2 separate regions of the Homo sapiens genome follow, and region 1 is linked to region 2. A link means that fine-mapping ties the variant in region 2 to the expression of a gene that starts in the linked region. Tissue or cell type: blood mononuclear cells. Region 2 holds a variant in brackets; the other region holds the start of a gene. All regions are shown on one strand. Distances are from middle to middle.

Evidence for each region. PIP is the estimated chance that this variant, and not a neighbour inherited with it, causes the effect.
Region 1: it holds the start of STYX, and the variant in region 2 is fine-mapped to the expression of STYX in blood mononuclear cells (TOPMed, PIP 0.93).

The regions. Positions count from the first base shown.
Region 1 is chr14:52,726,933-52,735,038 of GRCh38, reverse strand. It overlaps STYX (serine/threonine/tyrosine interacting protein), which reads right to left and starts at 4,873. Exons shown (of 11, transcript NM_145251.4): 1 at 4,508-4,873. The coding sequence starts at 4,564. PSMC6 (proteasome 26S subunit, ATPase 6) reads right to left here. Exons shown (of 14, transcript NM_002806.5): 14 at 6,449-7,540. The coding sequence ends at 7,422. RefSeq lists an enhancer at 834-1,128 and silencers at 4,579-4,658, 4,729-5,188.
Region 2 is chr14:52,785,920-52,794,025 of GRCh38, reverse strand. It overlaps GNPNAT1 (glucosamine-phosphate N-acetyltransferase 1), which reads left to right and starts at 2,419. Exons shown (of 6, transcript NM_198066.4): 1 at 2,419-2,598. It overlaps LOC105370500 (a long non-coding RNA gene), which reads right to left and starts at 2,238. Exons shown (of 3, transcript XR_943867.3): 1 at 1,700-2,238. RefSeq lists enhancers at 1,797-2,311, 2,312-2,825, 2,933-3,022, 3,103-3,192 and silencers at 2,223-2,442, 2,543-2,622. The variant A/G (reference allele first, on the strand shown) is at 3,862.

The DNA of each region.
Region 1 (8,106 bases), 59 kb after region 2:
GTCTCCCAGGCTGGAGTGCAGTGGCTAGATCTCGGCTCACTGCAAGCTCCGCCTCCCGGGTTCATGCCATTCTCCTGCCTCAGCCTCCCAAGTAGCTGGGACTACAGGCGCCCGCCACCATACCTGGCTAATTTTTTTTTAAGTAGAGACGGGGTTTTACCGTGTTAGCCAGGATGGTCTTGATCTCCTGACCTCGTGATCCGTCCGCCTCGGCCTCCCAAAGTGCTGGGATTACAGGCGTGAGCCACCACGCCCGGCCGGATTTAATTACTTCTTCTTTTTCTTAAATTCGTTTTTGTTGCTTGCAACCAAAAGATACCAAACATGCAATATTAAGAAATACGGAACGAATTGGCTTTCAGCAGACAATACTTGCATCATTATCCACTAGCTTTAACCATTACCTCTGTCCCTGTGATATAATATGAAATACATGGTCTTTCTCTCCAGTTCCTGTCACAGTCCTCCTAAAACTCTTGGAATTTTCTAATAGGAGTGTCTTTGGTTATTTATGAGCCACTATTTTTGATCAAACCTGATTATGCTAATGAAGTGATTTAGGGTGGGGCCAGTCACCAGAAAGACCATGTGACAAGAGGGTTGAACTCTCAGCCTCACACACACACACACCTCTATGGGAGGGGATGGAGATGAAGTTCTATAAAAACCGTTGAATAAGATTTGTTGAGCTTCTGGATGAAAACACTGGAGGTGCTAGTGAGGCAGGTGAATAGGGTCTGGAGGCAGGGAATCTAAGGCTGTTTCACCCCGACTTCCCAGAACTAACTTGAAGGGAAAACCCTAACTTTCCACGCCTAAGTAACAAAAGGACCAGAGGCTACTCCCGTTGCAAACCACCTACCTTTTCTGCACAGTAGACGGGAAATTGGCTGTCCTCAACAAATCAGACTGACTGCGGGTGGAATCTTCGTTTGCAACTTTGTAACTTCACTCTAGCCACTGAATGGTCGCTGTCCACAACCAAGCGGACTGATGTGGGGGTGGGTCTGGCAACCAATCAGACCAATTGCAAGCCACCTCTTCATTTACATGAGGTGAGCATGGAATGGCCAATGGGAAAGTTCTAGGGGGTATTTGGACCCAAGAAGATTCGGTAAAGCAGCGGGGGTCGGGGGGGAGTGCTGCTAGGGCAGCTCCCACACTGTGGAGTGTACTTTTGTTTTCAATAAATCCCTGCTTTTGTTCTTTTGTTGCTTCATTCTTTCTTTGCTTGGAGTTTTGTCCAATTCTTTGTTCAAAACGCCAAGAACCTGGACAGCTTGCAATCATGACTCTACTGGTGACACTGGGATGGTGGTGTGCCCCTTCCCCCATACCTTGCCCTATTCATCTCTTCCTACTGGCTGTTCACTGATCTTTTGTAGTATCCTTTATAATAAACCCGTAAATGTACTTCCCTGAGTCCTGTAAGTCACTCTAGCAAGTTAACTGAACCAAGGAGGGAGTAACGGGAACCCTGATTTACAGTCAGTCAGGAGTGTATAGGTGACAACCTACTACTTGTGATTACCATCTGAGGTTGGGGGCAGCCTTGCGGGACTGAGCCATTAACCTGTGGGATCTGACTAACTTCAGGTACATATGTGTCAGAATTGAATTATGGGACATTCAGTTCATGCCTGCTGGAAAACTGCTTGGTATGGAAAAACCCCCACACATCTGGTAGCATAAAAAAAAGAGTGTGTTTTCAAGTCCCACACAGAAAAGACAGGTATATATTCCCAGCAAGAATTTATCAGTTTTGCAGGAATAAGGCATACATAATGATATACACAGTAACAGATTAAATGCAAAGTCCGGGAAAATTTTAAACTAGAATTTTTAAGATTAGGGCAGGGAAGAATTGAAGTGTATTAAAAAGAACAATGAATTAGGAGGCCGAGGTCCTTCTGTGTCTTGTGCTACTGTGTTGTTAATTTGGCACATCACTTATTTTCAGTAAGGTACAATTTCTTCACCTGGAATGTGGGACTCCTCTACATTATTTGTAAGGTTGCTTGCAGTTAAGTGCTGAAATTACTGAATCATTTTGAGGATATGAAAGCATACTCCTTCGCGGTGGCTCAAGCCTGTAATCCCAGCACTTTGGGAGGCCGAGGCAGGCGGATCACTTGAGGTCTGGCGTTCCAGACCAGCAGGGCCAACATGGTGAAACCCCGTCTCTACTAAAAGTACAAAAATTAGACGGGAGTGGTGGCGGGCGCCTGTAATCCCAGCTACTCAGGCGGCTGAGGCAGGAGAATCTTTTGAACGTGGGAGGCGGAGGTTGCAGTGAGCGGAGATCACGCCACTGCATTCCAGCCTGGGCAACAAGAGTGAAACTCCGTCTCAAAAAAATAAATAAATAAATAAAAGCATACTCTTCATTCACATTATTGTATGTTAAGTATAAATTCATTTTTATAACTAGCCTAAATATGACCTCCTGTTTTCTAAGAGTATATTGGCCGGGCGCGGTAGCTCACGCCTGTAATCCCTGCACTTTGGGAGGCCAAGCCAGGCGGATCACAAGGTCAGGAGTTTGAGACCATCCTGGCCAACATGGTGAAACCCCGTCTCTACTAAAAATACAAAAAAATTAGCCCGGTGTGGTAGCGGGTGCCTGCAGTCCCAGCTACTCGGGAGGCTGAGGCGGGAGAATGGCGTGAACACGGGAGGCAGAGCTTGCAGTGAGCCCAGATCGCACCACTGCAAGATCATTCCAGCCTGGGCGACAGAGTGAGACTCTGTCTCAAAAAAAAAAAAAAAAAAGCTGGGCCTGGCGGTGCGCGCCTGTAATCCCCAGCTACTCAGGAGGCTTAGGCAGGAGAACTGTTTGAACCGGGACCCGAGGCAGAGGCTGCGGTGGGCTGAGACAGCGCCACTGCACTCCAGCCTGGGGCAACAAGAGTGAAACTCTGTGTCAAAAAAAAAAAAAAAAAAAAAACCATGAGTATATTCTTGGGCCAGGTGCAGTGGCTCACACCTGTAATCCCAACACTTTCGGAGGACAAGGCGGGAGGATCTTGAGGCCAAGAGTTCGAGACCAGCCTGGAGAAAAAACCCATCGCTACAAAAAAAAAAAAAAAGAAAAATTAGCCCGGCATGGTCCCAGCTACTCCAGAGGCTGAGGTGAAAGGATGGCTTGAGCATGGGAGTTCGAGACTGCAGTGAACCGAGATCACACCACTGCACTACATTTTGCAACAGTGATAGTCACAAACAAAGTCTCTACTCTTAAAACAAATGTAATTGTCAAGCATCAATACCACAAGAGAGCCCTCCAAACAAAAATGTGAACCTAGGCCGGGCGCGGTGGCTCATACCTGCAATTTCAGCACTTTGGGAGGCCGAGTCGGGCGGATCACAAGGTCAGGAGATCGAGACCACCCTGGCCAAAATGGTGAAACCCGTCTCCCCTAAAAACACAAAAATTAGCTGGGCGTGGTGGTGCGCGCCTGTAGTTCCAGCTACTCAGGAGGCTGAGGCAGGAGAATCGCTTGAACCCGGAAGGCGGAGGTTGCAGTGAGCCGAGATCGCGCCACATTGCACTCCAGCCTGGCGACAGAGCAAGACTCCGTCTCAAAAAAAAAAAAAAAAAAAAAGTGAACCTCCAATGAAGATATTCAATAGAATAAATATTCGGAATAAATTGAATGGTCTCCTAAAAATAGGGCTTTATTTTTCCCAACTACTTTAAAGGTATTTTTAACTAGCGATGTTAGATTTTCTTTCTTAATCCTACTAAAGTATAGCTGAGTATCTTCGTCTTGTTAATTTAGCCTCCAGAAAATTCTAATTTAGTAGTCTGCAATGCCGTAAAATGTTAAACTAGCAACAGATGAAAAAAAATCCGAGTAGAAACAGCAGGCAGGGATCTAAGGTGGAGTAAAAATAGCCACAAATTAGAAACCAGGAGAAAAGGTATATAGTATTTTACTTTCAATATTAATTTTCCTCCAAAGGTCAAGATTTCTGATTAAGAGTTCTCAGATTAAGATGAGCTAGCTTTGAGACACTTTGTTGTGCGGGTCATAGCTTTGTCTAAAAACAAACAAAAAACTTTGGGAAACTTTTCGAAGGCGCGCTTCCAAACTTCAGGCGCCGAGTCTATTTCACATGTGGGGCCATGTGTCCCACAAGTGAATCGTTTACACCACAGATATTCCTCAAAAGGAGACTAAACCAACTTCGCTCTCTTGTTACTTTGACAATAAAAGAGGAACCTTACTCCAGGTCAGTCCTGGATGCCAAGCCTAGGGACTAAGGGATTGCTTTTCCTCTTCTCAAATGTAAGTACACCAGACGCTGCCCCTCCGCGGGGTCTGGAGAGGACGAGCAACTCAGTGGGGATTGGAGCCGACCGCTCGGCTTCAGAGGTCCCGGGACGCCCTTAGGAGGCAGGGCGCCCGTACAGGTGGCGGCTAAGACGGTTGGGGACTGGGGTCGCCCCTCGGCCGGAGCCACAGGGAGAGGCCTGTGCGTGGCAGCCACGGGAGCGACTCACCTCGGCGTCTTCCTTGCACTGTGGAAGGGAAGGGAACTCCAGCTTCACGTCCTCCATGGTGCTGGCCCGCGGGCTGGTGGGTGGGGTGGGAGAGTGTTACACAGCCGGCCGACCCTCGGGCTGGCTGCGGCGGCGGAAGGAAGGAGGGCCGGCGGAGCGGAGGGCTGACAGGAGGGCGGCGGGATTACAACTAACACACGCAGACTACAGGGTCCCAGTGACTCCAGCAGCGGCGGCGGCGAAGACAGGGAAGAGGAGGGTCGGGCGTCTTACACCCGGCCGCCATGCCGCTGCCGTCTCCCTCCCCCAGAGTCTCCGTACCCCTCAGGCCGCCCAGGATCCAGCACAGGAACCAGCCCGACAACCGTCTCCCCGCCTCCTTCCCGCCCCCTCCACCCGCGTCGCCTCAGCCAATCCCAGCCCACGCTCGCCTTCTGCCCGCCCTCCGCCGCCGCCAGGTGTCAGCGCGCCACCGCCCTGCTCCGCCCCTTCGCTAGAGCGCAGACGCTTGGGGGTGGGGGGGGCGGAGCCTCGGATGCTGCTAGGCCACAGCTCACCCGGCGTGGAGGAGGCGGGGCTGCGGTGGGACAGGACGAGTGAAGGTCCTGGGAAAGGCAGTGGGGCGGTCCGAGCCAGCTCCGCCCTTTCCAGACAGGACGTAGAGCCCTTCTTTAACATAAGAACAAACAGGCAAAACAGGCTACCCACCAGTGGCATCCGAAAGGAAAGCTATAGTTTCTCCCCTCTCAAAATTCTGCGCAATCTATGCTGAGTTTATAACCAAATGACTAATAAATGAAGAGTTCAATTTAAAATCACGTGGTGCCATACAGAAAATAAAATACCCATCACCTTTAAGCAAAGAATTAAACGGCTCAATTTAAAATTTTTTAAAGTATTTTAAGAGTACTTGAAAATACAACTCAGTTTAGATTACCTAGAAAATATCAAGAATGGCAACTAGAAAAAAATCAGAAAAAGGAACTGATAGCTGACTCAGTAAATTGTATATAATACTGTAAAATTTCTTCCATTATTATATTTTGAAATAAAAATAATAAACCAGATGGCTTTCAATATCTTTTAAAAGGAGTTTGCCAGCCTGAGCAAAATAGTAAGACCCCCCTCTCTAAAAAACAATTTTAAAATTCCCTGGGTGTGGTGGCGTTATGCCTGTAAACCCATGGTGAAAAGATTTGGGCCGGGCGCGGAGGCTCACGCCTGTAATCCCAGCACTTTGGGCGGCTGAGGCGTGTGGATCACCTGAGGTCGGGAGTTTGAGACCAGCCTGACCAACATGGAGAAACCCCGTCTCTACTAAAAATACAAAAATTAGCTGGGTGTGGTGGCGCATGCCAGTAATCGCAGCTACTTAGAAGGCTGAGGCAGGAGAACCGCTTAAATCCGGGAGGCGGAGGTTGCAATGAGCTGAGATAGTGCAATGGCACTACAGCCTGGGCAACAAGAGCGAAACTCCATCTCAAAAAAAATCAAAAATAAAAAAAGAAAGAAAGGATTTGTACACCAAATTGATTCTTTAAAAAACCACCGCCAGCACAAAGGTAAAAGGCAAGATAGTCACTCCTTAACTAAATGCAAATTATAAGTGAAAAGATCACATAGATATTTGACTTAAACCTCCCCCTACATTCTACTTTTTGTCACATAAAATGCACTGCCAACACATAGAAATAGAACTGTACAATAATTTGAGTATGAGATGGCTAACTTGACCACTCCATTTTCTATTTTAACTGTTCATCTTCTAAAATTATAAAAAGGCACATAATATCCTGCTAGGAAGTTTTTAATTTGAAGAATTATTGTATAATTAGCTAGGTCATGTATTTTTGGTTCTTTAGTGTTTATGAAACTGAAGTTGTCTTTTCTTTTCACCAGCATCTTTAATAATTATTGATGCCCAATGATGATTCCTTTGTGTACTTTGTTATAGCTTTTATTGCCAGATGATATAAGAATCATGTATAGGTAACAGAAATCATGTTTTGAACATTTCTGACACTCCTACATCCCCTACATCATACACTCTTAGCCAGGTATCCATACATACCTAAAGAGTCCTTGGATGAGCTTGGGAAACAATAAATTTCCTGAAATTATAGTATACGCAAAATTGTATGTTAGAATTTTTCCTGGAAGAGGGTCCAGACCTCCACATCCTCAACAGGGACCTATCGTCTTACATAAACCAAGAAAACCCAGTCACATATTAGCAAATATTACGTTGAATCATACTCTTTAAAAAGTTATGGATGTGCATGTATATTTTCAATTAACCAACAATGAGCTTAATCACAGTAGATGAAGAATATGTAAACACTTTCTGAAAGGAGGAGTACAGACATACCCACACATCCATGTTTTATTTAAGAAGATGATCTTATGAACATTAAGTATGTGTACTATTTTAAAATAATATTCAAAAATCCACAATCCATCTGGGTTATCAAATAGTTTACTTGCTAAAGAACCTAAAGGACCACAGTAAATATACTCAGAAAAGACAAGAATATATATGTAGGAGAACTGAATCAAACAGATTTTATTCAACTTTTTAGATGAGGAAAACAAATGATACAAAATAAGTCATAAGAAATGCTTTCTTATACCACTATCTCAAACCACTTTCAATATTTTACAAAATGCTCACGCAGCAAATATGAAAAGCTTCAACACTTTCCCTTTGTAACTTGCTGCAATAAATGCAACTTTAACAAACATACAAATTTCTTCTGTATCTTAAAAGTTGAATTACTAATTTTTATGATGTTACTCATATTTTTATTCATATACTTTTAATGACATCATTACCAATACATACATTATTTTCTTTAACTTTATTTTTACAATAAGCCAACATCTGTCATGCAGCCATCAAAAATCTTACAGTAAATTACACAGGTTTGTAGTCCAATTTAGACTCCAGCTTCTTAGAATCAGCCACTTTTCTGACTGCTTTCATGAAGTCTTCCTGTACTACAAAATCATGATCAGCACGAATTGCGAACATACCTGTAGAGAATAAAACAACATGACTGCTATATATCACATATGAATTATATGTTCATTATAAGAAAAACAATATAATTCTATGGAATAAATGTGAAGCTTAGATTTATTACTTCTGAGCCAGTAGTTGTAATTTGCTAAAAACCACTATCTTTTTTCAATTAAAATCCACAGGCCGGGTGCGGTGGCTCACGCCTGTAATCCCAACACTTTGGGAGGCCAAGATGGGCAGATTGCAATGTCAAGAGATTAAGACCATCCTGGCCAACACGGTGAAACCCCATCTCTACTAAAAATACAAAAAAAAAAAAAAATTAGCTGGGCATGGTGGCGCGCGCCTGTAGTCCCAGCTACTCGGGAGGCTAAGGCAGGAGAATGGCTTGAACCCAGGAGGCGGAGGTTGCAGTGAGCTGAGATAGTGGCACTGCACTCCAGCCTGGCAACAGAGCGAGACCCCATCTCAAAAAAAAAAAAAAAAAAAAATCCATAGCGGTGTTGTGATTATGTTCTAAAACAAAAACAGGTATGACCATTATATGAATATTTAACATCCGGTTCAAGGCTGGGCA
Region 2 (8,106 bases):
GGAGTTCAAGACCAGCCTGGCCAACATGGTGAAACCCCATCTCTACTAAAAATACAAAAATTAGCTGGGTGTGGTAGTGCGCACCTGTAATTCCAGCTACTCAAGAGGCTGAGGCAGGAGAATTGCTTAATTGGAACCCAGGAGGTGGAGGTTGCAGTGAGCTGAGATCACACCACTGCACTCCAGCCTGGGCTACAGAGTAAGACTCCCTCTCAAAAAAAAAAAAAAAAAAAAAAAAAAAAAAAGAATAATGGTGAATGCAGCATTTCTTCTAAGAATCTAGAAAAATAAATAAAAATCAACCAAAGGACATACCAATGGTTCCATTAAACCAGAAGTTGAGACTGTCTCCTGGTTATCTTGGGCTCCTCATTGCCAAGTGAACCTACAGGCAAAGAAAGGGGTTAACTGTACTGGCCAGAGTAATCGACCTTGTCTATTAAGGAGAAATTGGGTTCTTATGGCCCAATGTGGGTAAGGAGGAGTATATGTGGAAAGTATGAGATCTCTGGGGGTACCTCTTACAAGCCTTGTGTTCTGTGATTTTAGAATTGCTTATGTTTCACTTTTTGCTAATTTATAAAACATACAGCAGTTTGTTGTACAGGATAAACTCACTGAAAACATTTGACCAGAAGTCTGATAAGAAAAACGGGGAGGGCCATATGCTTAAGATTAGTGGTGTGTACATAAGCATTTTTTTAAATTTTTGTTTGTTTTGAGACAGGGTCTTGCTCTGTGGCCCAGACTGGAGTGCAGTCTTGCAATCATGGCTCACAGCAGCCTCTGCCTCCCGGGCTCAGGTTATCCTCCTACCTCAGCCTCCTGAGTAGATGGGACTACAGGCACATGCCACCATGCCTGCCTAATTTTCAGTATTTTTTTTTGTAGAGACAGGTTTTTACCATGTTGCACAGACTGGTCTCAAACTCCTGGGCTCAAGAGATCCACTTGCTTAGGCCTCCCAAAATGTTGGAATTACAGGTGTGAGCCACTACGCCCAGCCATGAGTGTTTATTTTATTTATGCCTTACATATTCTTTTTTTTTTTTTTTTTTTTTTTAGAGACAGGGTCTTGCTCTATTGTCCAGGCTGGATTCAACCTTGTGGGCTCAAGTGATCCTCCTGCCTCAGCCTCTGGAGTAGCTGGGACTACGGATGCATACCACCACATTCTGCTCATGCCCTATATATTCTTTTGTATGTATGGGTGTAAAAACAGAGATAAAAACAGAGATATGGATGCCATCAACTCACTGATGTTTGAAGTTCTGAGAAAGCATAAATCAGTAAAGGAGTTAACTGAAATTTAAATCTCACAAATGAGCAAAAAATATGATTTCTGGTATATGATCTATGGGGTTCTTTGAATACTATTGCTTAAGAATAAAATACTTTGCGATTTCAATAAATTGAAAATTATGGTACAAGGCAAGGAAGGGGAGCTACTAGCTATGAGACTTTTGTAAATTATGTAACATCTCTGAACCTCTGTTTCCTCATCTGTTAAAATAGGGACAAAGTGCTACTTAGGTAAGACACTTCAGAAATGGGGCTCTGAAAAAAGTCACTTTTCTTCTCCTAACGAAAGGTTTCTAAACCTCAGCACTCCAGACATTTCAGGCCAGGTAATTCTTTGTTGTGCGGCGCTGTCCTGCGCACTGTAAGGCGTGAAGCAGTATTCCCGGCCTCTACTCACCTGTGCCCTCCACCATCTGTAGATTCCAATGACATCTCACCCCAGATGAGAGGCTGAAAATGATTCATACATTGCCAAATGTCTCCTGGGAGGCAAAACTGTTGCAGTGGAGAACCGCTGTCCTAACCCCATGTTCATCCAATAAAGGGTTTGAGGGACTGAGAAATGAAACAATAGTCCCGAAGGAGTAGAATGCAGTGGCCCCAACTCCTAGTTTCATGAAGGCAGGAACTGTGACTCAGAGGCCTGGGGATGCGGAGCTCTGAACTGCCAGCTGGTAGGAAAAGTCCTAATTAATGGATTGAATCATGAAGGGAGGGCAACAAGGAACAAATGGAGAGGGCCAGTGGCCGAGCCTTCGGTCTCAGGATCAAAGAGGCCCACACTGGTCACCACTTACGCTGCTGGGCTGACTGCTAGGTAGACGTATCTGCAGATAAACCGAGACAATGACGCGGTGGGAAAGGCCTTGGGGAGCGAGGAGGAGGAGCCGGGAGAGGCCAGCTTTGGTCCGGCGGCCACCGCCCCAGGCGCCGCGACTCGAGCCTCAGGCCCCGCCCCTCGCCCTCCTGGTCCCGCCCCCGCTCTCCGAGCCCCGCCCCTCGCCCTCCTGGTCCCGCCCCCGCTCTCCGGGCCCCGCCCCTCGCTCTCCGGGCCTGGGCGGGTGGCGCCTTGGCCTCCGCCTCCGCTCGCCTGCGCGCGGCCCTGCGTGAGGGGGCAGAGGCGAGGTGGAGGCGTTGGCGCTGCCACGTCTGGGCCGCGGTTCCCAACTGTGGCGCGGGCGGTGGAGGAGGAGGTGGGGCTGGCGCTGAAGCCGGATCCGGATCCGGTGCTGTGCACACTGGTGGGGGAGAGTCCGACGCGCCTGGCTAGGAGCGCCGACCGCAGGGCCTCTACGGGTGAGGAGGGACCGGGGCCGGGGCGCGAGAGCAGGACCGTGTGTCCTGGGGGCTGGGGCGGGCCTGCCCTCAGGTTTATCTAACAGGTGTGTCTGGTGCCCCGGCCAGGCCCCCGGGGGTGTTGTGTGGAGGAGCTGGGCGTTAATCCTCGCCAGCTGGGTGCACATGGTGTGGAGCGCGGTTCCCAGGAAGTTGAACGCACGCGCGCCTGGAGCAGAGGTTAAGGATGATGGCCAGCGGTCCGGCCATACGCTGGTCTTGGCCTGGCAGGGCTGGAACTGGGACTGGGGTCGGAACTTCGCTCCCCAGACTTTGGCGTGGGAAATGAGACAGTTGGTCGCGCTCTCTGCAGCCATCGGTTTTGAATGGGCACGAACGTCCCAGGCCCCTTCTCTTCTCCCATTCCCGGGCGCATCCCACGGTGGTCGGAGCCATTGAGGCAGCTGCTCCGAAGACCACCTCCGCACCGAGTAGGTCGGCGCTTTCCCCAGGGTACAGAGGGACATTCTTTGTCTCTTTTTCCTAGGCTCCTACCCCTAGAAATACCGAGTACTGTACTGTGATTTCTGTTGCGGGAGCTGATGTTTATGTAAGCCAAACTAATTTAAAATTTTCATACAAAATTGAACGGGCGATTATAGGATTCGTTTTGTTAGGATAATCCCTCATGAACGAATCCTAGAATGGATCTTAAGAAATTAATTTAGGCAGGATTTGCTAAATAGGGGAGAGAGCGCTAGCTGTATGGTATGATGATGTAAAGATTGGGGTCTGTTGAGGATGGTAATCGAGCTCAAGATGCGAAAACGAGGATTCTAGCCCCAAGTCACTTACTTGCTGTGTTACCTAAGGGGCAAGTCTTGGGAGTTCCAGGTGCTCCAGCTTCCTCATCGGTAGACTGGGAATAACGCCTAGATTGTAAAGGTCAAACTATCAGAAAATACTTTTGAACATTCATGCAGTTACACAATTTAATAAATATGGCCAGGTGTGTTAAAAATCTTTAACGGAATAGATTCAGAATGGATTCTTGTTATCGAAATTGTTATAAAATGAATATAAAGGAATCCGAAGTCCGCCCCTCCCCCATTCACCTGTACTTAGAAGGTTCCCCAGGAGCTCTTGAGAAATACATAGGCTGGTTTAGATTTGGCCTTAGATTGTATTTTTTAAAATTTGTAGATCGACTTTTAAAATCTTCATCTCCGGTGTCTATTACTTGTTGCTCTCCGTTGGTTGCTTCTAGCAGCAGCCTCTCTCCCC[A/G]TTCGTATTCCAACCTGATACAGAGGCTCAGACGCCAAATAGTTGAAGTTTTGTTTAAAAAATATTCAATTGAGTGAAAAAATATTCAACTGATGTGATGACTAGTAAAAATGAATTTGGTGTATGCTTTCCGCGATATTGTGGCAGTTTGGGAATTTTTTTTTTTTTTTTTTTTTTTGTCCTTCTGGATTTTCTGAAATGTGACCTACAGGTAAGTCTTATTCGTTATTCATTCACTAGGCATTATTGGGCTAGGGTTAGGCTTAAACGGGTCTTCTAAACGCCTGCTAATTTAGCAGTTAATCAGAAAAGGTTCTGAGGAATACTTAAGGAGGATTAGTGTTTAAAGTTCATCTAAAAACTTTAAAGAACCTAATGATATGATGAGATTCCGCTTCACACAACTGTGCAATTTTATTCGCAGAAATTTCCTAGTTTTGCAATATCTGGGCACCTGAAGATGCTAAAAGATTATTTATATAAAATTACTTATTTAATTATGTTCTAAACCCCCTTGGAACCAGGTTTCAAGTCATATCTTGCTTCACTTTGCCCAGTACCTTAGTTGGGCACCAGCAGAATTTTACGGTTTGAGGACAGAGTGAGCTAAAGTGGGCCTTCAGTATGGCTCTGTTTTGTAGAATAGCTCATAAAAAAATTTTTGATGTTAATTTCTGATTGCCTGGTTAATAGATTCTTATTTCAATCTGTAATGCTTTGTTTAATGTATTTTGACTAGTCTGATTCCCATTTTCCAAATGTAGGTTCTAAGTGCTGCTTATGACTTAATTTTTAACCCTTGTACAACAGTAAGATAGGGAATTTATCTACTCTAGTGCATCTTCAGTGTAATGGTTAAGAGCAGAGTCTGAAGTCATACTACCTAGCAGGACTGGCTACGTAATCTGTGGTAATCCAAATTAAAATGCAGGGTTCCTTGTTAAAAAATTAAGAACTTCAAAACAGTGGCAGCAGGGTATCAAACTTAAGTGCAGGGCCCTGTGTAACGGCACAGGTCAGGGGCTTCTGAAGCTGGCCCTGTTGCCTCATTTTGAATCCTCACTCTGTTCTTATTGGCACTCTAACCTTGAGCAAGTTACTGTGCCTGCTTCCTTATCTGTAAAATTGGGATAATAATGATACATCGTTCATTGTATTTTTAAGAGTTAACATATAGAAAGTTTTCAATAAGTGTTAGCCAATATTATTTATTTTTATGATCATTCGTGGAAAAGGACTGTCTCATCAAAGAAAAGTACAAGAAAATATTAGTATTTCCTGGTTAAAATTCATTATTTAAGGGCTTCATAATCCTAGTTGTTTTCCTGTATACTTCTTCCCTCTCATGAAAATTATTAACCCTATTTTTCATGTTTTCTAGACCACATTTTTATTGTAAACACAGACAACTTTATAGGAAAAAGGAATCTAGTTAAATGTGGTTAAGGTTGATTTAAATTCTCTTTTGAGTTTTCTTTGAACTTTGTATTTACAACTATATGTTTAATAGCAAGACCAAAATGTTTAAATAGTGTGCTGCCTCGAGGAATTTACATTTTTAATACTGTACACATTTCACTTTATTAATACTTAGCCTGTTTATCTACATACCTGAAAAACAATGTTGCTACCTACCATTCAGATGAGATTACACACAAAAACCTCAAGGGTCCAATTTAGACAAAACACTAAAACACGTGGACTCAATTTCATCTATTAAAAACTTGTTTTGGCTGAGCATGCTGGTTCACACTTGTAATTCCAGAACTTTGGGAGGCTGAGGCTGGAGGATCACTTGAGGTCAGGAGTTCAAGACCAGCCTTTCCAACATGGCAAAGCCCCATCTCTACTAAAAATACAAAAATTAGCCAGGCGTGGTGGTATGAGCCTGTAGTCACAACTACTCTGGAGGCTGATGTGGGAAGCTGAGGTAGGAGGATCACTTGAGCCCAGGAGTTTGAGGCTGCAGTGAGCTATGATTGCACCACTGCACTCCAGCCTGGGCAACAGAGTAAAACCCTGTCTCAAAACAATAAAACAAAACAAAAAACCTATTTTGAATGGCTATTAAACTTGTTAAATTTGAAATGACTGCTTGATCATCACAATTTCTATATTTTCCTTAATATTGTTAGAACTGGGTATAGTGTATGCAGCATAATTTGAATCATTTTGTGTGTGTGTGGCTGGGGGGACCTCTCAGCAGTCTACATTATAAACTACGTTCTTTTCTACCCAAGAATGCTAACTTTTGGTATAACATAAACGTAAGAGCCTGTCATTCTTTTTGTAGTTCCTGTAACCAGCACAGTGCCTGATTCATGAATTAAAGGTAAAAAAAAATGAACAAGAATTTATAAACTTTAATTTTAAATTTATTGCTAACTAGCATATATCTTATTAAGTACTTGCAGTATTCCAGGCACTGCTAAGTGCATGACTGCATACAGTAATGCATTTAATTCTCCCAGTAATTTCATCTCCATTTTACAAATGAGGAAACTAGATTCTAAAAGCTTAATTACCGTAGTACATATCACACAGTTGACATTTGAACACCAGGTATGAATCCAAAGCTCATGCTCTTTCTATGCCTAGGTTTAAATCCTGGCTCCGCTAATTTTGTGACCTTGGGCAAGTTACTTAACATTTTCTCATCTGTTAAAATGTAGATAATAACCACTCCTAACCTGTAGGATGGTTGAAATAAATGAATTAGTAAAGCTCTTTCAACAGTCTGGCACATAAGAAGTGCTGAGCAAGTGTTAACTTCTGTTGTTACATCACATCACACTACCTTCCCATAACTAGTATATTGCAGCATTGCTTATATAGTTACATAGGATTATACAGGCAGAAACTTATTATCCATCTTTAAGGAAAAGTTAAGAATATTTGCCCTAAAGCATACTGTGACTTATGAAATAAGGAACAATTGGGGGTTAGGTTATTGGGCAAATTGTTCTCTCATTAAAATATGGTTTCTTTAACTGGATATAGAAATAAGTTGGGGACTGCTTTTTTTGGATCTCTAATCCAAAAATCCAAAACACTCCAAAATTTGAAACTTTATTGAGGGCCAACATGATGCCACAAGTGGAAAATTCCACATCTGGTATAATGTACAAAAACTTTTCCATGCACAAAATTATTTAAAATATTGTGTAAAATATTTGTGCTATCTGTATAAGATGTATATGAAACACAAATGAATTTTGACTTGGGTCCCATCCCCAAGATATCTCATTATGTATATGCAAATATCCCCAAATCTGAAAAAAAAAAAAAAAAAAAAAAAAAAAAAAAATCCAAAACCTGAAACATTTCTGGTCCCAAGCATTTTGGATAAGGAATACTCAACTTTTAATTGTTGGGAAGCATCTGTTTCTTTTAGCAATTCTGTGCTGCACAGAAGCCCCCTGGCCCCAGTTTTATGCTTTGTATGATTTGTTTTTCATCCTTCCTATCGTTACTTCTCTGTTATTTAGTCTCAGTTTTAAAACATTACAACTAGTGAGAACCTGCTCATTTCTAAATGTTCAAAAAAGAGGGGGAAATATCATGATCACTTTTCAATAGCATGAAAAACACCAGCTATTTTTAAGCTGCTTAGATGCAACTGAGAAACACTATACAGTTTAATTTTAATTTAATTTTTTTGAGACGGAGTTTCACTCTTGTTGCCCAGGCTGGAACGCAATGGTGTGATCTCAGCTCACTGCAGCCTCCACCTCCTGGGTTCAAGTGATTCTCCTGCCTCAGCCTCCCAAGTAGCTGGGATTACAGGTGGCCACCACCACACCTGGCTAATTTTGTATTTGTAGTAGAGACAGGGTTTCGCCATGTTGGTCAGGCCGGTCTTGACCTCCTGACCTCTGGTGATCTACCTGCCTCTGCCTCTCAAAGTGCTGGGATTAAAGGCACGAGCCACCATGCCTGGTCCATACCACAGATTTTTAGAAAATCTGCTGTGAAAACAAAATCCTGCAGTGTATATCTAGCATAGCCAAGGTAAAGTATTTCTGAGAATGCCAAAAAAAAAAATTAATTTGAGCCTGTTCATCAATTTTCTTCTATTCATGGTTCATTGAAAAAAAAAAAAAAAGCTACATGTGGCTAGACATGGTGGCTCACACCTGTAATCCCAGCACTTTGGGAGGCTGAGGCAGGCGAATCACCCGAGGTCAGGAATTTGAGACCAGCCTGGCTGACATGGCGAAACTCCGTCTCTACTAAAAATACAAA